Homo sapiens: one gene and its partners. The protein of the gene in region 1 purifies or fractionates together with the protein of each later gene. This does not show direct contact. Each region holds a gene or a part of one and is shown in the gene's direction. Other genes may lie near its edges.

Region 1 (4,797 bases):
GCAGATTTAGATTATTTCACCCAGAAAATGTAGTTGAAATTTAGGGAATGAGGTTTAGGGAAAGAGTGTGAAGAAAAAAGAAAAGGGAGGTGGGAGGAGACAGAGTGAAAGGGAAGAAGCCAGATCCTGAGTTTTCACTGAGAAGAGGATTTGAACAACACAGTGGTGGTCAACAGCAGTTATTGGAACTGTAGATTGTTGGTTTTGGGAACACCTGTCTAGGTTGTTAAGAGCCAGTGGAATAGGACATCCTGGAAATGAAGAAACATCAAAATCCAAGGAATCTGAGAGAATGGGAACAAAAAAACACATGTAGAGATTTATGGAAAACTTGAGACACAGGGGAAGAAGGATAAAAATAGAACTCAGATTTCTGGAGGTGGATGACATTTAACTTTAATAAGTAAAGGGCCCTGTCTCTACAAAAAATTAAAAAAAAAAATATTCCAGTGTGGTACGCACCTGTAGTCCTAGCTGCTCAGGAGGCTGAGGTAGGAGAACACTTGAAGCTTGGAGTTCTAGGTTACACTGAGTCATGATTATGCAACTGTACTACAACCTGGGCCACACAGCCAAGACCCCATCTCCAAAAAATAAAAAATAAAGGGAAGAACAGTAAGGTTTGACCTTTAGGGGAATGGATGTATTATGCACTGAGAGACCCTTTCTTCTCCAAAGAATGTTGATGTTCACTAACATTTGGGAAAAATTGTGTAACTCCCACTGGCACTGTGAAATTGTTTTTCTGTTTTTGTTGTTGTTGTTGTTGTTGTTGTTTTTTGGAGGGGAAGGAGGAAGGGTGTTGTTTGGTTTTTTGGTATTCCACCCTACTCTGTCACCCTATTTCTCCCACAAAATCTGTTCTAGAACCTAAATATATATTTGTTCTAGAGCCTAAATGAAATCTACCAGATAAGTGACATGATATATACTATGTAAGTTTCCATATATATTTTTCTTACTGAATATCAGTCACTTCATCGTTCATAAGCCCACTTTTCTTATACATCCTTTCTAGTCACCCTAGTAGTAGTCCTTCAGTCCTCATCTCTTCCCTTCTTTCTCCCCATGTTACAAGTTCGACTTACAACTGAGCCAGATAGATCCATCTTCCTCTACTTACCTAGTCCCCACTCTTATTTTCTTCACTCAGGAGTTGACTACATCTCATGCTTCGAAATTACACTTGAAAACTTTGTTTATTGATTTAAAAAGATAAAAAACTTTCATAGTACTTTTACTTCAGCAGATGGTTTTGACCAAGTACCAACAAGCTTTATGGCAAAATAGGTATTAAGGTGGCCTGTGGCAAATAATTAGATTATGGGCAATTAAGGTAATTAAGTGGTGATGTGGTATCCCATCAGGGTGTACAGTCATTTACCTCAAAAGAAGAAAACATCTCTATTGAGAATGCATATGCATATAAAAGCTCTGTATAACCTTTGCTGTGAAAAGTATATCCCATTTGTAAACCATTGGTGTTTTTTTCAGAATCGCCTACCATTTGGTGCAAGCAAAAAGCAATCAGCAATTGGACAGGTAAACTTGTTTTATTGTTTATATGTTACTCTGAACATTGAATGAAAATACCACTAATAGCTTGTTTTAAAACGTGCTATTTTTCACATAGAAAAATTCTATTGAAAAATATAACCACCTATTATAATGTATCAGATATCATAGTATATCACAGTATGTCATATCTAGTTCTTAGTTTATGTCATATTTCTTGTTAAGCCTAACATATTTTTTTGATTTGTAATTAAAGATAGTTTCTAAAATGGTGGGTAGAAAAAATACTTTAAAAGCTTTGTTTTTTAAAAAATATTCTACCAACTTTTAAAAAGTGTTTTAATCTTGTTTCTTCTGGCCAAATGAAAAGCATTTGATTTTGAATTTTAAGAGCAGAGAAAACTGACAACTTGAGGTTTATTAAAATAGACGAATAGCAAAGATACAGACTCCTATGTACCAGATACGTGCTCAGTGTACCATCTTTTGCAAAGTGGATATAGTCCTTTCTAAGTTTAAGAAAATCTGGTTTCCTTGTGGAATAATGGAGCAAATAAATTTTATTTGTTGGTCTCATATATATGTATTAATATATTAAAATTAGTATCTCTCTCTATAAGTTCATTATTTAAGATAGGATTGTTAACAGTAGCTAAAGTTAATATTCAGTAACTAATAACATCTCATGGGAGTTTATTGTTTAAGAATTAATCTTTTATAGATTAAAAGCATAAAACTGAGCAGATGGTAATTTCTTTGTGTACAGTTGTAATATCATAATTCTATAGAATCAGTTATCTTAAAGTGTCTTAAAAAATGAGTATTTAAAGAACCTCTAGAGAGTCAGGACAGCATAGCAGTTAAGAGTAGGGCTTCTGATGTCAGACTTCTGGGTTCAAATCCCAGTCTTCCAAAATAAAACTATTTGGGTTTATTGAAGAAATTAGAGATAAGATTGAAACTAATTTTTTAAAGTATTTTATAAAGACATTTCCAAAATTAGCTTTTTAAGATTATTGTTATACATCTTTGAAAGAGTAATCCTAAAGCTCCAGCTGATTAGCATGTAGTAGTGCATTTCTCTGAGAAGATCACCAGGGTGGTAATACCTGTTCCTGATATCTAAAGCTTTTTCTTCAATATGTAGGACTTACTGCCTTATATTCTAATACAGTGTTTCTAGGAATAGAAAGGGAATCTTTCTTTGAGAGGTACATGTCAGAATCAGTGTGGTTTCCCTTTGCTTAATAGGCATTTATGATAAAGATAGTTTTCCAACTTTTTTCCTGTATTTATCATTAAAAGCAATAAAATATGTCATTTTACATGTAAGTTTAAAATTATTTTTACATGAAAACAAAAGATTTGTTGGACAGAAAAGAAGTTAACAGGCTTGTTTTACTTATTGGTTTGTTTTAAAAGGAGAAATAAATGTTGATCTTAAAGTTTCATATCACTTTCTCTTAAAAATTCATGGGATGAGTAATTGGATCTGGTTTAGTGTCTAGAAAAATGTGTATCACACCGTAAGTGTTCAGTAATGTTACATATTATTATTACCAAAATCATTATCACATCTTTCTTCCATTTTAAAATCAACTATAATCAGTCATACCAATTCCTTGACTACTTTGTTGCAGTTGATAGGCAGACTATTAACAATTTTTAATCTTCTAAACTAAGGTAATTAATTGGTAACTTATGTATTTTCTGCCTCTTTTAAAAATAATTTGGGGCAGTCCACCACAACGAAAAAACTTGTTAATAAATTAGTAATGATATACCAAAGTATGAAAGCTTTTAAAAGTGAGTAACAAGTGTAAATGCATGTATGAGCGTTAATCAGTTTCTTAATATTATTTACTGGAGAAAAATGTGAAAAAAAAATTCTAAGTAGAAAATAGTTGTATGTTCAGATAATTTATCTGAAGGCAATTAGTTTTGTTTCAAGTTTTTCAGTAACTAATTCTCTGGAAATTAATGAGATTACTCTTTACTAATAGGAAAAGAATGGCATTGAAGCAGATTTCCAGCAACAAGTGCTTTGGGGGATTGCAGAAAGTTTTTGAACATGACAGGTAACTATTAAGAAGATATAATTTTAGATACCTCATTCTGTTGGATTATTTTGTTCTATTTTAAAACCAATCTTTATCTAGATATTATAGTACCTCATTTTACTTTTAAACTTGCTTACTCTCTTTCTGTGGTTATGTATTTGACAATTCTACCAGACTTAATTAACTGTGGATGTGATTGTGTGAGGTAGAGCCTTAACAGAGAAGTATCTTCAAGCTTTGACATGATGCTCTTCTGAAACTTTATGAAAATGCTTATGTTGCCAGTAAAAATTCTGAAAACATTTTCTTTGAGGATCTCTAAGTGTAGGAAAAACACCTGGACTTTTTGAGAAAGATGGCACACTAAACACATGCATTTGCTTCCGCTGCCTCCAAAACTCTGACTAACATGGCATTAAGTAAAGAGATTAAACACACACGCACACATACATATACCTATAAAGGCATAAAGAAGCAGGAGACAGGAGCTAAGAATAACATTTTAGAAGCAGGAATACAAATGGAGAGGTAGTACCTGACTTAGTAAAACCTAGAAAGCTACATTCTAAACATAAGCAAGAAAACCTGAGAAATGACACAATTTATTTAAAGCCATAGTAATTGGAGGCACCAGGGACCCCTGAAAATAAGGATAAAAGTTGAGCTTAGAAAAAAGATTAATTGAAAGTCTGTTTTTAAAAGGAGATAGATCTGAGAGTGTCCCAGCTTTATGGACTGCCTCTTCCTAACTCTGGGAAAGATTGGAGGTAAGTTCTCTAGAGAAAGTAAACTGTTTGTACTGGGGAATACCAGACACAATTAGTGGGATTGTGATACTGCAAATAGATTAAGCAAAAGTTTGCACACTGAGTTTCTTCCACTAGCTTTCAAAATTTGGGGACTTAGTCTTATATCCTTTAGAAGAATTTCTTTGTGGGGAGTTTGAGTAGCCCAAAGGAAGAGATTTCAAGATACTGAGATTTGCCAACAAAGTAACCTAACCAGACCTTACAGTAAAGCAATGATTGACAACTCCACCTGTAGGCACAGTGCTTTCAACTAGATTTTTAGTGTTTCTCTCTTAAATAGGAGTGGACAGCTAAAGATCACTAGACATTTGTATAAAGTCTTTAATTTGATATGAACTTCTCTTCATATCAAAGTATAAAAGATATTGACCTCTTGACTTCATAGGATGCTATTAAAAAATATTCAAGTACAT
Region 2 (3,500 bases), on another chromosome or scaffold:
AGCAGCAAGAGACACCCAAACACGCTAAGCCCATGATGCAGCACTGGCATTTCCTACAAGGATTTACCAACAGCTCAAACCCTTGGGAAAGAGCCCTTCTCTCAGTTTTTAATTTTTATGCTGAAGAACTGTGTGTCACATGGGGAAGAGTAGTTACCATTGACCAGGTGATAAGCCCTATCTGGTTTGGACTCTAAACCCTACCTATCTCTGGACCCCTTGGACAGAACTTGACTGAGATTTCTTCCCCCAGGGAAGTGCTCTTGCTTCTCTAACAAGTCCTCAGCCTCACGATACCTGAACACAGAATGGTCCCAGCCTCAACACGCTGTGACCCTCCGCTGTGGAGCTGGTGACTCTTGCTCTCACCTATGGCAGTGGGCCTGCAGGTGCAGCTGCTGCTCCATGCAGATCAGTTATTTGTGAGTTGGGAATTGCACTCGAGAAGAAGGTGTAAGATAGACAAGTAAAAGCCCAATTCCTTAGTGTCACCATTCTTATACCCACATTGCTGAAACTGATTAACCCCCTCATAAAGCTGGTGGAAAATCTATCATTGGTTCAGAGTGAGGGTACATAGCAGTTGCTTTGTCAAATATCTCAAAAACATTTTAAGACAAATTTCACCATTAAGTGGTGCATCTTAACGTTGAATCCCATTTAAGTTATTTTGCTGTAGGTCATTGGGGAGTGCTTGGTTCCACACACAGAATCAAGATGCTGCTGCTTTGAGTCCTAATGGTGGCTTTGTGAAAGCATCCTCAGAATCTGGGCAGCATCAAGCCTGCAGGCCAAGAATGCCTACCCAGAAAGCACCTGCCTCCTGAAGAGGCATCCCATTTTAGAGTCCTCTTCACACGCAGAAATTTCTTTTTCCTTGAGGTCCTGACCCCTGACACCTGATGATAGATTTTAATGACATTATAATGCTCTTAATTCACAAATATTTTAAGAATTGGATTTCTTTCAAATGGGTTTTGGCCCTGGAGAGAACTAGCATCTTGAGAGGTTAGGCACACGAGGAATGCCCCTGCCTATGATCTGCAGGGAACTGCCCTGGAGTTGAGGCTCAGCAGCTGAAGGAGGACTTTAGGTAAACATTTTACCTGTTTGTTCTTAACTGGCACCTCCGGTTCCGGGGTGGGGGTGAGGATGTGTTGAGTTTTAACGTATTTATTGCATTTGTTTGTTTTCTGTTCATTTCGTTTTTTGTTTTCTCATTGAGTGGTGTCACTTGTCTGGAGGCTATTGTTATGAATGCCTGTCCTTTCTAATACATCTGTGTGCCCTTCATGGTTTGCCATACATTGTTTCTGTGCTTGCCTTTTCTCCCTTTCATTCTCCCTCCTTGCCTTTTCTCCCTTTCATTCTCCCTCCTTTCAGTAAACTTCCTTTAAAGGACTCCACTGAGAGACCCTGTTCTCAGAAGCAGCAAAGAGGTGTGGCCCACACCCTCATGGCTTGCTTGTCTGGCCTAGGGACTATGCAAATATGGACCAGACCCTTGGGGTATTTTCTCACATTATATTGGCAAACAATTTGTTTACCCATTGGCTGTTTTTGATAATTTTTTATCAGTCTGCAGGCTTTTGTTTTTTACAGTTAAGGATAGATAAACCTTTTTTGTGCTAAGAAAAGCCTTTTGCAAGAATGTCTTCAAACCAAGGTTATTTGAGGGGCCACAGAACTTCATTCTTAATGTGGATATGGTTATGAACATCACTTCATAATCTCTTCTAGATCTTTTTTCTCCCCTTGCTTACTAACCCCTATTTAGAGTCTGATTTCAGCAGCTCACAATTTTATTTTACGTTTAGATGCGTAAGAGGGGTTCCGTTCGAGGCACGTCGGCTGCTGATGTCTAGATGAGTCCCCTGTAGGGTCAGAGACAATGTCAAACTGTGTAAGTGAAGACCTGGGTAAAAAGATGTTTCGAAACCTGTACCTTTTTGGTGATGGGCAGTTAACTTGCTGAGCAGAAGCTCTAAGTGTTAAATGTGGTTTTATTTTTAGAATTTAAAAGATAAATATTTTAGAAATTAATAGTGAACACTTATTAATAGTCTTTAAAAATTTTACCTGTGGACCAGGTTGAATTTAGTAATCCTGGGTTAGTTTTTAGTGTTATGGGTTAGAACCCAGCTGCCAGGTGCTGTTACTCATCATGTAGCACATTGTCCTGGAAGCCAGCTGATTTTTCAATACTGAGTTAATTGACCTGGTTCTTTGTAGAACCATTTGTGGTTAGTAAGGAAATATGCAAAATCACTTGAGATCAAATAAAGATCCTCTATCCCATACCATACGAGCCAACCTCAATAATTTATTTTGGCTGCAATATTTTCTGTGCACCAGAAAGTCTTCCTTGATATTTCGTCTTCAGTTGTTACAGTTAGCTTTACTCTGCGTAAATGCACTTTAGTTTTAATTTATGGTGTGAACCATTTTTGTGGTCTTATTTCTCTAACACATTATATGCCCATATAACAAATTTTCCCAGAGATGCAAAAAAAAAAAAATCAAAATCTCCCTCACAAATTGAAACCAGTGTGAGTAAACAAAAATCAACAGTGTGCTGTCATCATTTGTTTATACTGAACTATAATGTTTATTATAAAGAGAACGAGATGTAGCACTCCCCTCCCTCCACTGTGGTTCTTTGCTGCCCCACATGAGCTACCTGCTCTTTAATTTTTGAACATTGGGATGAATGAAATGTTCAGTTGTGAGAAAAGCTAGTTGTGCCAAATAAGAATGAAGTAACTCTTCCAAGATTCCCCCCAAACACTTTTAAATTCCATGTTCATTAAAAAAAAAAAAATTTAAGTTATTGTTACTTTTGTTAAACTCTCCTAAGTTTTTGTGATTTATTTCTGCCTCGACTTTATTTTCCCCTCTGATGAGACAATATATTGTGGCATTAGTAGTAAGACCAAAATCTTTTTGAACAGATGAAAATTGTAAGATGCAGTAGTTGGGGTACATTTTCTGCCAAAAGTTTTGATGCATTTGGAGAGTGTGTGTGACGAGCTGCTAACATTTCCTGTCTCTGTATTTTAACACATTTTGCACTGTCTTTCACTTTTCTTACAGTTACGTAATCAAGGTCAAGTGAGGGGAACAAGCGCAGCCAGTGATGAGTGAAGAAGAATCTGACCAGTATCTTGCAGTGTTGACGTTTCCCAGATGTGTGCTTGTGATGATACACACACATGCACAGGTTCTCAACCACGTGTGTATATATGTATGTGTGCATATGTCTGTAGCTGTATATAAAGCGCATGTAGAGCTACAGATCCAGATACACACACTTGTGTATATATGTACATACAGACATACTGAAGGGATTAGTACAATTTCTCCAAAGTACTGTACCTATCTTCAGCAAGAATGCAAAAGAAAATATTTTCAATATATATACCTGGAACAGATTTTAATAATTATCAGAGTAATACCATTAATGGACAAATTGACTGCAATGTAATACTAGCTGGTATGTT
Region 3 (4,797 bases), on another chromosome or scaffold:
AGGGCAATTTAATCTGTCATTTTATAAAATGATTAAGAGAAAAGAATGAAGTTGGGGAATCACCAATTGGGAGTCTCCAGGCTTATTAAAGGAAAGATAACTAGGACTAAACCAGAATGTTAGCAGAGGCATTGGAAAGGAAGAAAGGGGCCATTTGGAGGAGGCATTCTAGAAGTAGAAGTAGAAGTAGAAGTAGAATATTTGTGAATAATGCTCTACATTAGCAGTGTTTCAGCCTTCTGCCACACAGGAGAATTTATGTCCAGCCAATCTCCTAAACCTGCGTACTCAGCTCCTGCCACATGGGTCTCCTCACAGTTCCTGGAACATTCTAAACACACTAGCTAATGCCTCATGACCCAATTTGCCCTTAATCCTTCTACTTGGAAAGTCCTCACTTTCAGAGTTCTGCTGAAATACCTAACCTTATCAAAGAATCTTTCCTGATCACACAATGAAAAATAGCAGCCTGCCACTCCTTTCATTCTATTTTCCAAGGTTTATTTTTCTTCATTGCATCAAAGCAATTATTACATTTATTATATAGTTAGTTATTTGTTCACTGTCTCCCTATCTCTAGATAGTAAAGTCCATGAGGCTAGTTGCTTAGTTTTGTTGCTTGTTATGTATCTCTCTCACCTAGAACATGCTTGGAACTTTGTAGACACTCGACAAATATTTGTTGACTGAATAAATAGAATAAATGCAAAGGTGAAAGAAATGGGTCATCAAATAATTATGCCAGTATTTCAAGTCTGAAGAATTAAAAGGGTAGTGATGTTATTAATAAAGTATCAAAGAGTGGAAGATAAGTTGACTTAGGGGTATGGAGACAGAGGAAGATGAATTCAGCTTGTGAATTCATGCTTAAGTATGTCATGCTGGTGAAACAACCAAGGCAGTGCTGTGTAATGGGCAATCTAAAATGTGGAGAAGTCTAGGATTGAGGCAAAGATCACTGAGTCATCCTCATAGAGTCAATACTTGAAGCAGTGGGAATTGAAAAAATAATGACAAGCAATATTGAGACAGAATTATCAGATTTGAAAATTAAAATTTTATTTTGGATATTTAATGTTTTAAAATTACTAACTTACTTATACATCTAATTTTTTGTTTATTTCTCAGCTGGGTTAACAACTTTGGCCATGAAGGTCTTGGACTCTTATTGGATGAGCTGGAAAAGCTTCTGGACAAAAAACAGTAAGAATAAACACTGAAATTAAAATCACCAAAGGGAAAATGTTTCAGCACAACATAATATACATTTTTCTTTTATTTAGGCAAGAAAATATTGACAAGAAGAATCAGTATAAACTTATTCAATGCCTCAAAGCATTTATGAATAATAAGGTAAGTAGTATTTATTTCTGCCCCTGTCACAAAAGGTGGGAACTTGCCCAACACTATGAAAGTATGAAATGAACAAAATATTTTTTTATTATTTTTTTTAATTTCCAGGGTACATGTATATAGGCGAACATGTGCCATGGTGGTTTGATGCACAAATCGACCCATCAACCTAAATAATAAACCCGGCATGCATTAACTCTTTTCCCTCATCATCTTCCCCACCCCGTACCTATTTTTTACTTATGTTTCTGCTGTACTAATTAATTGTAGACTAGTTATTACAGGCTTATAAATAATAAGTGTTTATAAAGTTTTACAGTGAGGTTAAATACACATTTGAAACCATATATAAAAGATAAATTTGATGTTTAATTTTCCAAAATGTGAGCTATTGTTAGTTTTCTCGATTTTTTTTTTTTTATTTCTATGCTGATATTTCATTTTAACCAAAGAAGTCCTCACAGCATCCAGAGGATTTCAGGGATGATATAACTTCTGTAGATCTAAATCTTTTAAAAAATGGAGCCCTATTCCAATGTTTCTTCTATTCAAATATATTGCTTTCATATAGGGAAGATAGATAAAACAGTACTTTCCATTGTCTATGCTGCTAATTTCCTCAGGAGGGTGAGCTAGTCAATGAAACAAACAAAAAAAATGATTGGAAAAAGTGTATTTGACTCTTGTCTATAATTTAGAAATGCTGTGTCTGATTCTTATTCTGTTTATTCCTCCAATAATTTCTTTCATGTGAACAGAGGTCTTTTTGATTTTATAGTATACTAAATGTTCAGAAAACATAACAAAAAGAAAGAAATGAACAAAATAGTGAGTGCTTGTTCAGTTTACAAAAGGGTCTTTATGATGTAAATCCTTATAATATTTAAGTAATACTTACATGAAAGTTATACTTTGCTTCACAAAATATTTATTGGTGGGTTTTTGAAATCATGCAAATGAATTAGTGTTGTTCCCAATTTTGGTAATAATGCTTTTTCTTTAATGGTAGTAGGAAAATTTAAATGTCGTTTGTTGAATATGTTTCCACACAGAGAATTTCTGTTCTATTGAAAAGGAAAATTATAGGGATGGGTTGACTTATTTGCTAAGAACATTGTAAGATTGAGATTTCTCTTTCTTTTATGTTTTATTAATGTCAGCAAGTTTACATACATATAAGACATCTCTGAAAAATTGCAGGGCTTTTTATGTATATGTATAATACTAGTTGTATTATAAGGGACCCTGTGAATTTTAGACAATAATTTTTCTTCTAAAAATAGACTTTACTCAGGTTATGAAGTTACAGTATTTTTTCTATAAACTATTTTTTTTACTGTCTTAGAAATGACCTCTTCATACCTATAGATAAAATACTATTGACTAATTCACTTAATTACCTAATTCCCTTTACATAGTATTTTAATAATCTCAAAATAGATAATAGAAATAATTACAACAACAAGTAGAAGTTTGCCAAATGTAAAATATGGCTATTAATAACCAATGCAATAAGATTATATATTAATCTATAGACAGTCTCAAGCATATGGAAATACATATAAGTATTTATATATTATACATACATGTATCAGCAAAGAATGTTACTGTATGAGCATATGCAATGAATGCTTGCTAGTGGACATGAGACTCCTGAATATGCTAGTTGTACTGTTTCTGGAAGTTTCTTACAGAAATATTCCCATCACTACTAGTACAGATTTTCTCAAAATCTGGGCTCTTAGTCTTTGGCTACAAAGTTAAACAGAATCTGATGCCCAACAAGGAAATAATGAGCATTGCTTCTTCACAGCTCAAGATAGATCTCTTTCGTCAATTGAGGGAAACAATGACATAATGGAAAGATAACACAGTTCTAGAATTCAGGAGATATATATAGTTCATGCTTTGTTCCTAATAAGTTGTGTGGCCTTTGGAAAATTACTTGACCTCTCTGAGTATCAGTCCCCTCATCTGTAAATTTAGCTATAGGACACTTTGTTCTAAATTCTTATTGACTCATGTTGTCAATTGTCGTGGCTTTTCAGGATGCTAAGTAATTTTAATCAGGACAGTCACTAGAGAGAGTCATAATAGTAAGATTCTTATAGAGCCCTTTTTTTTTTTAACAGAACATACTTTGATTTGTCAACATTTAGTTTCTTAAGAGTTTGGCAGTTTCGGAAAGCATAATGATTTGACTTAGATTATTCGAAATTGATGTTTTTAGTTAGGCCACGTTAATGTCTTGCACATAGGTGCTCAGAGCATGGATTAATGGATCTTTTGAATTATAGACATGTGAAACAATAGGCATAAAATATGCCTTCAGAATAGAAAATATGCAGTGATCTTTTCACTTCATGTTGGAATAAATTGTCCAGATCAAGGAATTAAGCTTTTATCCAAAATGACTTACACATCAAATTTTTTGGCCCCATGGAGTTTAGATTACCTACTTCAAAAACTCCTTTCTTTTATCCAATACATGTAACAATAGGATCATAAAAAGCAACCCATTGTTTCTTAACTTCCAGTACTATAATATTGCTCTGATGTTTGGATTAATGATTTTCCAGATATATTTTTCATGTCTTCTTTTTTATTTTTGATGTGTCTCTATATATTAAAAACTACTTATAAACATTAAGTAAAATTTTTAAAACCTAATGATTTCACTCTCAGTCTCAATGACTCATAAAGCTATTAAGTTTGGTAATTGCGTGGTCATTGTCTCTCAGTTTTGCAAATGTGTTTTTCACTAATATTCATTACTTTTAATCATCTACTGGCCACCTTTATACATACTTATCTATTTTGTTTTTGTTGCTTCTTTCAAGACTTGTTTCTTGCATTTTCTTTTTTTTTTTGGTCTTATCTCCATATATTTTCCTATTTATTATGACCTGTGATAAACTCACATTTAAGAGCTTTAGCTATGTTCCCCATCTGCCACTCGGAGTTCTTTTAGAAATTAAATTAGGGCTGATGGAACTATTCATATGGTTGGTAATTAACTGAAGTTTAGCTGAAATGGAAATTTTGCTCCGATGAAATATCCAATTTCACCATTAGACTGTAAAATGAAGCAAAAATATTTTATAAGAAATCTGAAAAATACTTTGTGGGACAAAGATAAAATAATATATTGCTTTCTTAATGTAATGAAAACTCAAGTTTTAGACTTTCATTAGAATTTCTTTACTTATTTATTAAGTGCGTGCATGCACACGCATGCACACACATATTCATGCTTAGAAAATAAATGAAAATGGTGTTTTCTCTCCTTAGTTGACTTGTGACACTTAATAAAACCCAGGTGCCATTTCTTTAGGTTCACAGCTTTTGTAGTGCAGCACAGCTGTCTGAATCAGGGAGGATAAGAGAGAGAAGGCATGGGAATATCCATACTGAGGCTTATACTGGCATATAGTATTCAAAAGA
Region 4 (4,797 bases), on another chromosome or scaffold:
CAGGGGTACTGAAATACATGCTGTGTGGTAAAAGTGGGGATACTGGGAAGGCAGAAAATAAGGAAGACAGAGCTAGAGAGAGAGCATCCAGAAGGCAGGTTCCATGGCATTACAGGTGAAAGAAGGGTTAGGTGAGGGCATGGGCAGTTGGGAAGAGGGACCAGAATTTCAGTCTCAGATTCCCTACAGACTTGGGTCATAGCAGAGCAAATCTGCACTGTTATTCCTGGGTCTTATGGATGAATAGACTGTTTCATGGTATAGTCTAATGGCCAAAACCATGGGCTCTGACTTCTTGGTTGAGTGCCCATTCTGCCATAACTAGCAATGTGACTTTGGGCAAGTTAATCCTCTGTGCCTTAATTTCCTCATCTATAAAACGTGGATAACAGTAGTACCTACTTCATAAGGTTATTATGAAGATTAAAGGAGATAAGACCCATGAGACCCTCAGAACAATGTGTGACACACAGCAAGCACAGAATATCATTTTTATCCATCCAGCTTGTCCTAGCAGGTAAATACAGCCGGCTGGAGAATAGGTGGACCAGTACTAGAAAATGTTCTTGCTGCCCGGAGGCCATAGGTAACAGAAGGAGGTTGTTATGTAGTTACTTTGCTGAGCCAGTGGGGTCATGGTAATATCATGGGAGTTTGTAAGGTTCTCTTGAGTTTTGACTAAGCTTCCATGAGTGCTGGGTGAGGTAAGCCCCTTCGACAAACTGGGTGCTGGGTGATGTAAGCCCCTGTGACAAACAGATCTGCTTGTTCATTGAGGAGCTACAACCCTGCAGGGTCCTCTCAAGAAATAAGGGAACCGAATGTGGATAACATGTGGATTGTACTTTATTTCTGTTTTGGTTTTGACAGGAAACAGCAAGAGATTGACTCTAAAGATGCTATTATTTTGCATCAGTTTGCAAGACCTAACAATGGTGTTCCAAGTTTATCTCCTTTCTGTTTAAAGATGGAAACTTATTTAAGGATGGCTGACTTACCGTATCAGGTACTTGTGTGCAAATATGTTTTCTTTTTATGACATCAGTATCAGGGGATGAGTATTTAACTAAAGGGGGGAATATTTCGTCTCACACAGTGGATGCCAGAGGGGATGGGAGCTGAAACTAGCAGTGCCTAATCCTTAGTAAGAGGGAAATAAAATACTTGATTCCAGGGTCTGTTGATAATGATGGATCAAAAAGGTCTAAACTTTTGAGAGATTCAGCGCCATGATATTTTTCTTTAACAGAGTATTCTTTGGGCTGGGCACGGTGGTTCACGCCTTTAATCCCAGCACTTTGGGAGGCCAAGGCAGGCGGATCACTTGAGGTCAGGAGTCTGAGGCCAGCCTGGCCAACATGGTGAAACCCTGTCTCTACTAAAAATACACAAATTGGCTGGGCTAGTGGCAGACGCCTGTAATCCCAGCTACCTGGGAGGCTGAGGCAGGAGAATCACTTGAACCGGGGAAGCAGAGGTTACAGTGAGCCGAGATTGCACCACTGTACTCCAGTCTGGGTGACAGAGCAAGACTCCATCTCAAAAAAAAAAAAAAAAGTATGCTTTGGTTAATAGTTTGGACAGGCCTACTGAGCCTTGACAAAGATGGGTGTGCCACTGCCTGATGTGGTTTTTTACTTTAGGTTTTAGTTTATTGACAGCATCGTATTTTGTCCCTCATGAATCTTGGGGGCAGAAGGCCCAGTAGGCCACGAGGTAGATATTTGTGTATGTGGTGAGAGCTTTTCCACAGCACTCCATGTTCTGTTTGTGTGACTTTCAGGGAAACACTTGTTCATTTTAGCAGTAAATAAGGAAGAGGAGTGTACTTAAAGGTATATATTTCTCTCTGAGTAATGCTTGAGCTGTGTCTCACAAAGTCAACACGCTGTGTTTTCATAGTCATTCAATTCTATGTATTTTTTTTAAAAGTTCACTTATGTTTTTATTTTTAACCAAGTTCTAGCCATATGGAACTATTTTAAGCTTTGATTTTTGTTATCATTTTTAATTTGATGGTCAGAGAAGATAGTCTCTGTGATATTGATTCCTTGGAATTCACTGAAGCTTTAGCCTGGTTTGTAGTTACTTTTTTAAAATGTTGAAAATAATTACATATTCTCTGTTTGGATATAGAGAGCTCTCTATAGATCTACTTGCTTAAACACGTTTAGTGTATTATTTAGACCTTCTGTATTTCTGCTTATTTTTTTGTCTGAAAGGAGCATGTTAAAATATTCAAGTGTATCTGTTGATTTGTCTCTTTCCTGTCATTCTGTCTGTTCTTGCTTTATGTTAGAGTATTTATATATTTTAGGTTACATTGTTAGGTACATATAAAAGTTCACATCTTTTACTCTTGTTTATTTTTCTAGTATGTATCCTCCATTGATGTCTCTTCCTATTTTTTAAAAAACTTGAATTCTGTGTTATCAGATATTGAGATAGATTCTCCAGCCTTCTTTTGGTTCATATTTGCTTAGGATATCTTTCTTCATTCTCTCTCTCTTTTTCTCGCCCTCTCTCTTTTTGTATTTATTTCTCTCTTATATCTAATTGGAGAGTCTTTTAATTGGCAACTTTAATCCATTTATACTTATTGAAATGATTGTTTTATTAGAACTTATTTCTAATATCTTATTTAATATTTTTCTCCTTACTATACTTCATTTTAAATTTCTTCTCATTTCCTGCTTTCTAATAGATATTTTTTCTCATTTAAAACAAATTATATTTTTGTTGTTATTGTAGTTACTCTTAAGACCCAAATTTGTGTTTATGCTTATTAATTTGTTAAATGAATTAAAGTCTGTATTTATTCTGTTATAATACAAACACATTAGCAGTTTACGTGTACCTTGGGTCTCTTCCTTTCTTCCCAGCCCTGATCCCAATTGTGTTGCTGTTGTCTAAGATTTTAATTCTGGAATTTTTTGGCCGGGCACGGTGGCTCACGCTTGTAATCCTAGCACTTTGAGAGGCCGAGGAGGATGGATCCCTTGAGGCCAGGAGTTCAAGACCAGCCTGACCAACATGGCGAAACCCCATCTCTATTAAAAATACGAAAATTAGCCAGGTGTGGTGGTGTGTACCTGTAATCCCAGCTACTTGGGAGGCTGAGGCAGGAGAAGTACTTGGACCCGGGAGGCAGAGGTTGCAGTGAGCCAAGATTGTGCCATTGCACTCCAGCCTGGGTGACAGAACCAGACTCCATAAAAAAAAAAAAAAAAAAAAAAAGGAATTTTAGCAATTCTTATCCTTTCTTTTTTATCCTTTTTAGGCAACAAACTTTAGTATGTTATTTGACTAGCCTTATTTCCCATATATCTTATTATAAAGGATTTATCTTTTTATTTGAGAACTTCCCTGATGAATATCTTTAGAGTGAGTCTTTATGTGGCAAACCTTCAGTGGCTTTGCATGCCTGAGAATATAGTTATTATACTCTCACATTTGATAAATTTATGTTCAAAGTTCTTTTCCTTCTATATTTTAAAAATATTAGGCCAGGCTGGTGGCTCATGCCTGTAATCCCAGCACTTTGGGAGGCTGAGGCTGGTGGATCGTCTGAGGTCAGGAGTTCAAGACCAGCCTGGCCAACATGGTGAAACCCCATCTCTATTAAAAATACAAAAATTAGCTGGGCGGTAGTGGCGTGTGCCTGTAATCCCAGCTACTCGGGAGGCTGAGGCAGGAGAATCGCTTGAAGTGGGGAGGTGGAGGTTGTGGTGAGCCGAGATCACGCCACTGCACTCTAGTCTGGGAGACAGAGTGAGACCCTGTCTCAAAAAAAAAGAAAATTGATGTTAATCTCATTCTTCTTTCTCTTTCTCTCTAAATTATCTTAGAATTTGTATTTAATCTTAATATTCTCAAGTTTCAATATGGCATGTGTTGGTGTGGGTCTTTATATATCCTGTTTGGTCCTTTATAAACTCTTATTATCTGAGGTCTTTCATCTCTTTTGAATTCTGGAGAATTAATTATCAATTTTGTTAAAATATTTCCTTTTCTTTTATGTTTGTTTTTCTTTTCCCTCTTCTTCCTTGTTCCCTATTATCCAGATTTTGGAAACTCTGCTTCTATTTTCTATGTCTCTCTACTCTCTACTTGAATTCTTTTCTGCTTCTTTCTGGAAGCATTCCTCTCTCTGAGCTTCCTTTGCATTGCTCTATGTGTGTTTGTTGTTGTTGTTTGTTTGTTTTTGTATCCATTATGCTATTTACCCCATCTATTGTGTTCCTTATTCCAACTTTTGTATTTTTCTTCTTAATGTTTTCTTTCAGTTTGTATTAGTAATCTCTTCCTTTATCCATTGGAGGATATTTATTATGTTACTTAAATTTTTTGGTCTGTCCCAATAATTCTGCTTCATGTCGTATAATTCAGTGCACTGCCCTTCTCATAGTAGTGGTACTTATCTAGTTATTTTGGTTTGAGAACTCCTTTTACCAGGGATGCCAACTTCTCTGCCTGGGAATTTGTACTGGACGAGGGCTAAAGCCCAGGCCACAGGTCCTGTACCTCTGAGGGAGTTTAAAAAAAGAAAGGAGGTGAGCCTCAGGCATCCCCAAACTACTCTGGTCCTTTTGCTTTGCTGCCATTCCCCCAAATGGCTCCTGCAGCTCCGGGGTTCACCTTTAGACTCTTATAAAGCACCAACACTGGGAGGAGGTATTTTCCTCAGGTTGTAACAGACCAACTGGGAGGTTGGAGGGGGTGGGCTCCCCACTCAGCCAAGCTTTTGCCTGCCCCAATAATGATATTACTCCTCCAGCTCCTGACTCCCCATAGCCT
Region 5 (4,797 bases), on another chromosome or scaffold:
CCCCTCTGGGGGCAGGGCATAGCTGAACAAAAGGCAGCAGAAACTTCTGCAGACTTAAACCTCCCTGTCTGAAAGCTTTGAAGAGAGTAGTGGTCCTCCCAGAATGGAGTTTGAGATCTGAGAACAGACAGACTGCCTCCTCAAGTGGGTCCCTGACCCCTGAGTAGCCTAACTGGGAGAGACCTCCCAGTAGGGGCCGATTGACACCTCATACGTCCGGGTGCCCCTCTGAGACGAAGCTTCCAGAGGAACAATCAGGCAGCAATGTTTGTCATTCTGCAATATTTGCAGTTCTGCAGCCTCTGCTGGTGATACCCAGGCAAAGAGGGTCTGGAGTGGACCTCCAGCAAACTCCAACAGACCTGCAGCTGAGGGTCCTGACTGATAGAAGGAAAACTAACAAACAGAAAGGACATTCACACCAAAACCGCATCTGTACGTCACCATCACCAAAGACCAAAGGTAGATAAACCCACAAAGATGGGGAGAAACCAGAGCAGAAAAGCTGAAAATTCTACAAATCAAGAGTGCCTCTTCTCCTCCAAAGGAATGCAGCTCCTCGCCAGCAACGGAAGAAAGCTGGATGGAGAATGACGAGTTGAGAGAAGAAGGCTTCAGATGATTGGTAATAACAAACTTCTCCGAGCTAAAGGAGGATACTGGCAAACTGAATCCAGCAGCACATCAAAAAGCTTATCCACCACGATCAAGTCAGCTTTCTCCCTGGGATGCAAGGCTGATTCAACATACCTTGAATCAATAAATGTAATCCATCACATACAGAACCAACGACAAAAACTTATGATTATCTCAATAGATGCAGAAAAGGCCTTCAGCAAAATTCAACAGTTCTTCATGCTAAAAACTCAATAAACTAGGTATTGATGGAATGTATCTCAAAATAATAGCTATTTATGACAAACCCACAGCCAATATCATACTGAATGGGCAAAATCTGGAAGAATTCCCTTTGAAAACTGGCACAAGACAGGGATACCTTCTCTCACCACTCCTCTTCAACATAGTGTTGGAAGCTCTGGCCAGGGCAGTCAGGCAAGAGAAGGAAATAAAGGGTATTCAGTTAGGAAAAGAGGAAGTCAAATTGTCCCTGTTTGCACATGTCATGATTGTTTATTTAGAAAACCCCATCATATCATCCCAAAATCTCCTTAAGCAGATAAGCAACTTCAGCAAAGTCTCTGGATACAAAATCAATGTGCAAAAATCACAAGCATTCCTATACACCAACAACACACAGAGAGCCAAATCATGAGTGAACTCCCATTCACAATTGCTTCAAAGAGAATAAAATACCTAGGAATACAACTTACAAGGGATGTGAAGGACCTCTTCAAGGAGAACCACAAACCACCACTCAATGAAATAAAAGAGGACACAAACAAGTGGAAGAACATTCCATGCTCATGGGTAGGAAGAATCAATATCGTGAAAATGGCCATATTGCCCAAGGTAATTTATAGATTCAGTGCCATCCCCTTCAAGCTACCAATGACTTTCTTCACAGAATTGGAAAAAACTACTTTAAAGTTCATATGGAACCAAAAAAGCCCACATTGCCCAGACAATCCTAAGCCAAAACAACAAAGATGGATGCATCATGCTACCTGACTTCAAACTATACTACAAGGCTACAGTAACCAAAACAGCATGGTACTGGTACCAAAACAGATATATAGACAAATGGAACAGAATAGAGCCCTTGGAAATAATACCACATGTCTACAACCATCTGATCTTTGACAAACCTGACAAACACAAGAAATGGGGGAAGGATTCCCTATTTAATAAATGGTGCTGGGAAAACTGGCTAGCCATATGTAGAAAGCTGAAACTGGATCCCTTCCTTACCTTATATAAAAATTAATTCAAGATGGATTAAAGACTTAAATGTTAGACCTAAAACCATAAGAACCCTAGAAGAAAACCTAGGCAGTACCATTCAGGACATAGACATGGGCAAGGACTTCATGTCTAAAACACCAGAAGCAATGGAAACAAAAGCCAAAATTGACAATTGGGATCTAATTAAACTCAAGAGTTTCTGCACAGCAAAAGAAACTACCATCAGAGTGAACAGGCAACCTACAGAATGGGAGAAAATTTTTATAATCTACCCATCTGACAAAGGGCTAATATCCAGAATCTACAATGAACTCAAACAAATTTACAAGAAAAAAATCAACCCTATCAAAAAGTGGGTGAAGGATATGAACAGACACTTCTCAAAAGAAGACATTTATGCATCCAACAGACACATGAAAAAATGCTCATCATCACTGGCCATCAGAGAAATGCAAATCAAAACCACAATGAGATACCATCTCATATCATTTAGAATGGCAATCATTAAAAAGTCAGGAAACAACAGGTGCTGGAGAGGATGTGGAGAAATAGGAATACTTTTACACTGTTGGTGGGACTGTAAACTAGTTCAACCATTGTGGAAGACAGTGTGGCAATTTCTCAAGGATCTAGAACTAGAAATGCCATTTGACCCAGCAATCCCATTGCTGGGTATATACCCAAAGGATTATAAATCATGCTGCTATAAAGACTTCTATGACCAAAGATGTAGGAGGATTTCCCACCCACACCAAGCAACAGACACTAGCTGGGTATCCTCCAACTTAGTTCTGACACTACCTACCCAGAGATAGCATCAGATCCCACAGGCTTAGTCTCACAAGACTGCCCCTTCTTTTCCCCTAGTTGCAAGTCCTGGACTCCAGAACTTCTGGCTGACTGGCTTCAAGTTGGGGTTCCCATGACCTCATCTGTGAATTCCAGTAATTTGCTAAAGCAGCTCACAGAACTCAGGGAAACACATTTACCAGTTTATTAGGAAGGATATCTAATTTTTTTACTTTTTTTTTAATTATTATTTTTTTCATACAGAGTCTCCCTCTTGTTGCCCAGGCTGGAGTGTAATGGCGTAATCTTGGCTCACTGCAACCTCTGCCTCCTGGGTTCAATTGATTCTCCTCCCTCAGCCTCCCACATAGCTGGGATTACAGGCACCTGCCACCATGCCTGGCCTTTTTTTGTTTGTTTGTTTTTTAAGTAGAGACAGGGTTTCATCATGTTGGCCAGGCTGGTCTCAAACTCCTGACCTCAGGTGATCCACCCACCTTGGCGTCCCAAAGTGCTGGGATTACAGGTGTGAGCCACCACGCCCAGCCAGGAAGGATATTTTAAAGGATACAGATGAAGAGATGTGCAGGGTAAGGTATGAGGGAAGATGCATATGGCTTCCATGCTCTCCCTGGGAATCTCACCCTGTAGGAACCTCTGGAAGCTCTCCAAACCCTGTCCTCTTGAGAGGTGAAGCCAGCTGGACTTCCTGGGTCGAGTGGGGACTTGGAGGACTTGTCTGTCTAGCTAGATGATTGTAAACACACCAATCAGCACTCTGTAAAAATGCACTAATCAGCACTCTCTGTCTAGCTAAAGGATTGTAAACACACCAATCAGTGCTCTGTAAAAATGCACCAATCAGTGCTGTGTCTAGCTAAAGGATTGTAAACTCACCAATCAGCACTGTGTAAAAATGCACGAATCAGCGCTCTGTGTCTAGCTAAAGGATTGTAAATGCACCAGTCAGCACTCTGTAAAATGGACCAACCAGCACTCTGTAAAATGGACCAATCAGCAGGATATGGGTGGGGACAAATAAGGGAATAAAAACTGGCCACCCCAGCCTGCAGCGGCAACCTGCTTTGGTCCCTTTCCACGCTGTGGAAGCTTTGTTCTTTTGCTCTTCACAATAAATCTTGCTGCTGCTTACTCTTTGGGTCCACACCACCTTTAAGAGCTGTAACACTTGCCACGGAGGTCCGCGGCTTCATTCCTGAAGTCAGCAAGACCACGAACCCACTGGAAGGAAGAAACTCTGGACACATCTGAAGGAACAAACTCCAGACACACCATCTTTAAGAGCTGTAACACCGCGAAGGTCTGTGGCTTCATTCTTGAAGTCAGCAAGACCAAGAACCCACTGGAAGGAACCAACTCTGGACACACTCTTGGGTGTTCATGGAGGCTTCATTACATAGGCATGATTAATTAAACCATTGGTCATTGATGATTTAACTTGACTTGTAGCCCCTCTCCCCTCCCTGGAGGTTGTAGGGTTGGGGCTGAAACTCCCAACCCTCTAATCCTGCCATCGTCTTTCCAGTGACCAGCACCACGCTGAACCTAGCAGACAAAAGACAGCACGTTGGAGATCCCAAGGAATTTAGGAGTTGTATGCCAGGGAACAGGAACATATTTCCATCCTATAACATATCTTGGCCATATAACTAACTCATAGAGCACTTACTATCCCTTATTGAAAGTATTTGTTTTATGTCTTCTATTTAATTCTGAGCCTCTAGAGTCTAAGAAGCATCTTTTAGTTGTCCTTTCCTCTGTCTTGGTATCTGATACAGTGCCACATTATTTTTCTCTATCTGTAGCAACTTTCTTTTTTTTTTTTTTTTTTTTTTGAGACAGAGTTTTGCTTTTGTTGCCCAGGCTGGAGTGCAATGGTGTGATCTTGGCTCACCACAACCTCCACCTCCCAGGTTTAAGCGATTCTTCTGCCTCAGCCTCCTGAGTAGCTGGTATTACAAGCATGTGCCACCATGCCTGGCTAATTTTGTATTTTTAGTAGAGACGGGGTTTATCCATGTTGGTCAGGCTCGTCTCAAACTCCCAACCTCAGGTGATCTGCCCGCCTCGGCCTCTCAAAGTGCTGGGATTACAGGTGTAAGCCACTGTGCCCAGCCAGCAATT

The links.
Region 2: the proteins of ESD (region 1) and PITPNB fractionate together in Homo sapiens (co-fractionation; one large-scale study listed by BioGRID). This does not show direct contact.
Region 3: the proteins of ESD (region 1) and DIAPH2 purify together in Homo sapiens (affinity purification with mass spectrometry; one large-scale study listed by BioGRID and IntAct). This does not show direct contact.
Region 4: the proteins of ESD (region 1) and FAXC fractionate together in Homo sapiens (co-fractionation; one large-scale study listed by BioGRID). This does not show direct contact.
Region 5: the proteins of ESD (region 1) and ACADM purify together in Homo sapiens (affinity purification with mass spectrometry; one large-scale study listed by BioGRID and IntAct). This does not show direct contact.

The regions. Positions count from the first base shown.
Region 1 is NC_000013.11:46,790,142-46,794,938, reverse strand, and holds part of ESD (S-formylglutathione hydrolase), read left to right. Parts: intron 1-1,494; 5' UTR 1,495-1,542; intron 1,543-3,518; 5' UTR 3,519-3,525; coding exon 3,526-3,593; intron 3,594-4,797.
Region 2 is NC_000022.11:27,853,257-27,856,756, reverse strand, and holds part of PITPNB (phosphatidylinositol transfer protein beta isoform), read left to right. Parts: intron 1-1,817; coding exon 1,818-1,865; 3' UTR 1,866-1,903; intron 1,904-3,093; coding exon of another isoform or gene 3,094-3,144; 3' UTR 3,145-3,500. UniProt on the Homo sapiens protein: Catalyzes the transfer of phosphatidylinositol and phosphatidylcholine between membranes. Also catalyzes the transfer of sphingomyelin.
Region 3 is NC_000023.11:96,911,200-96,915,996, forward strand, and holds part of DIAPH2 (protein diaphanous homolog 2), read left to right. Parts: intron 1-1,128; coding exon 1,129-1,203; intron 1,204-1,283; coding exon 1,284-1,353; intron 1,354-4,797. UniProt on the Homo sapiens protein: Could be involved in oogenesis. Involved in the regulation of endosome dynamics.
Region 4 is NC_000006.12:99,339,107-99,343,903, reverse strand, and holds part of FAXC (failed axon connections homolog), read left to right. Parts: intron 1-870; coding exon 871-1,006; intron 1,007-4,797. UniProt on the Homo sapiens protein: May play a role in axonal development.
Region 5 is NC_000001.11:75,755,171-75,759,967, forward strand, and holds part of ACADM (medium-chain specific acyl-CoA dehydrogenase, mitochondrial isoform a precursor), read left to right. Parts: intron 1-4,797. UniProt on the Homo sapiens protein: Medium-chain specific acyl-CoA dehydrogenase is one of the acyl-CoA dehydrogenases that catalyze the first step of mitochondrial fatty acid beta-oxidation, an aerobic process breaking down fatty acids into acetyl-CoA and allowing the production of energy from fats.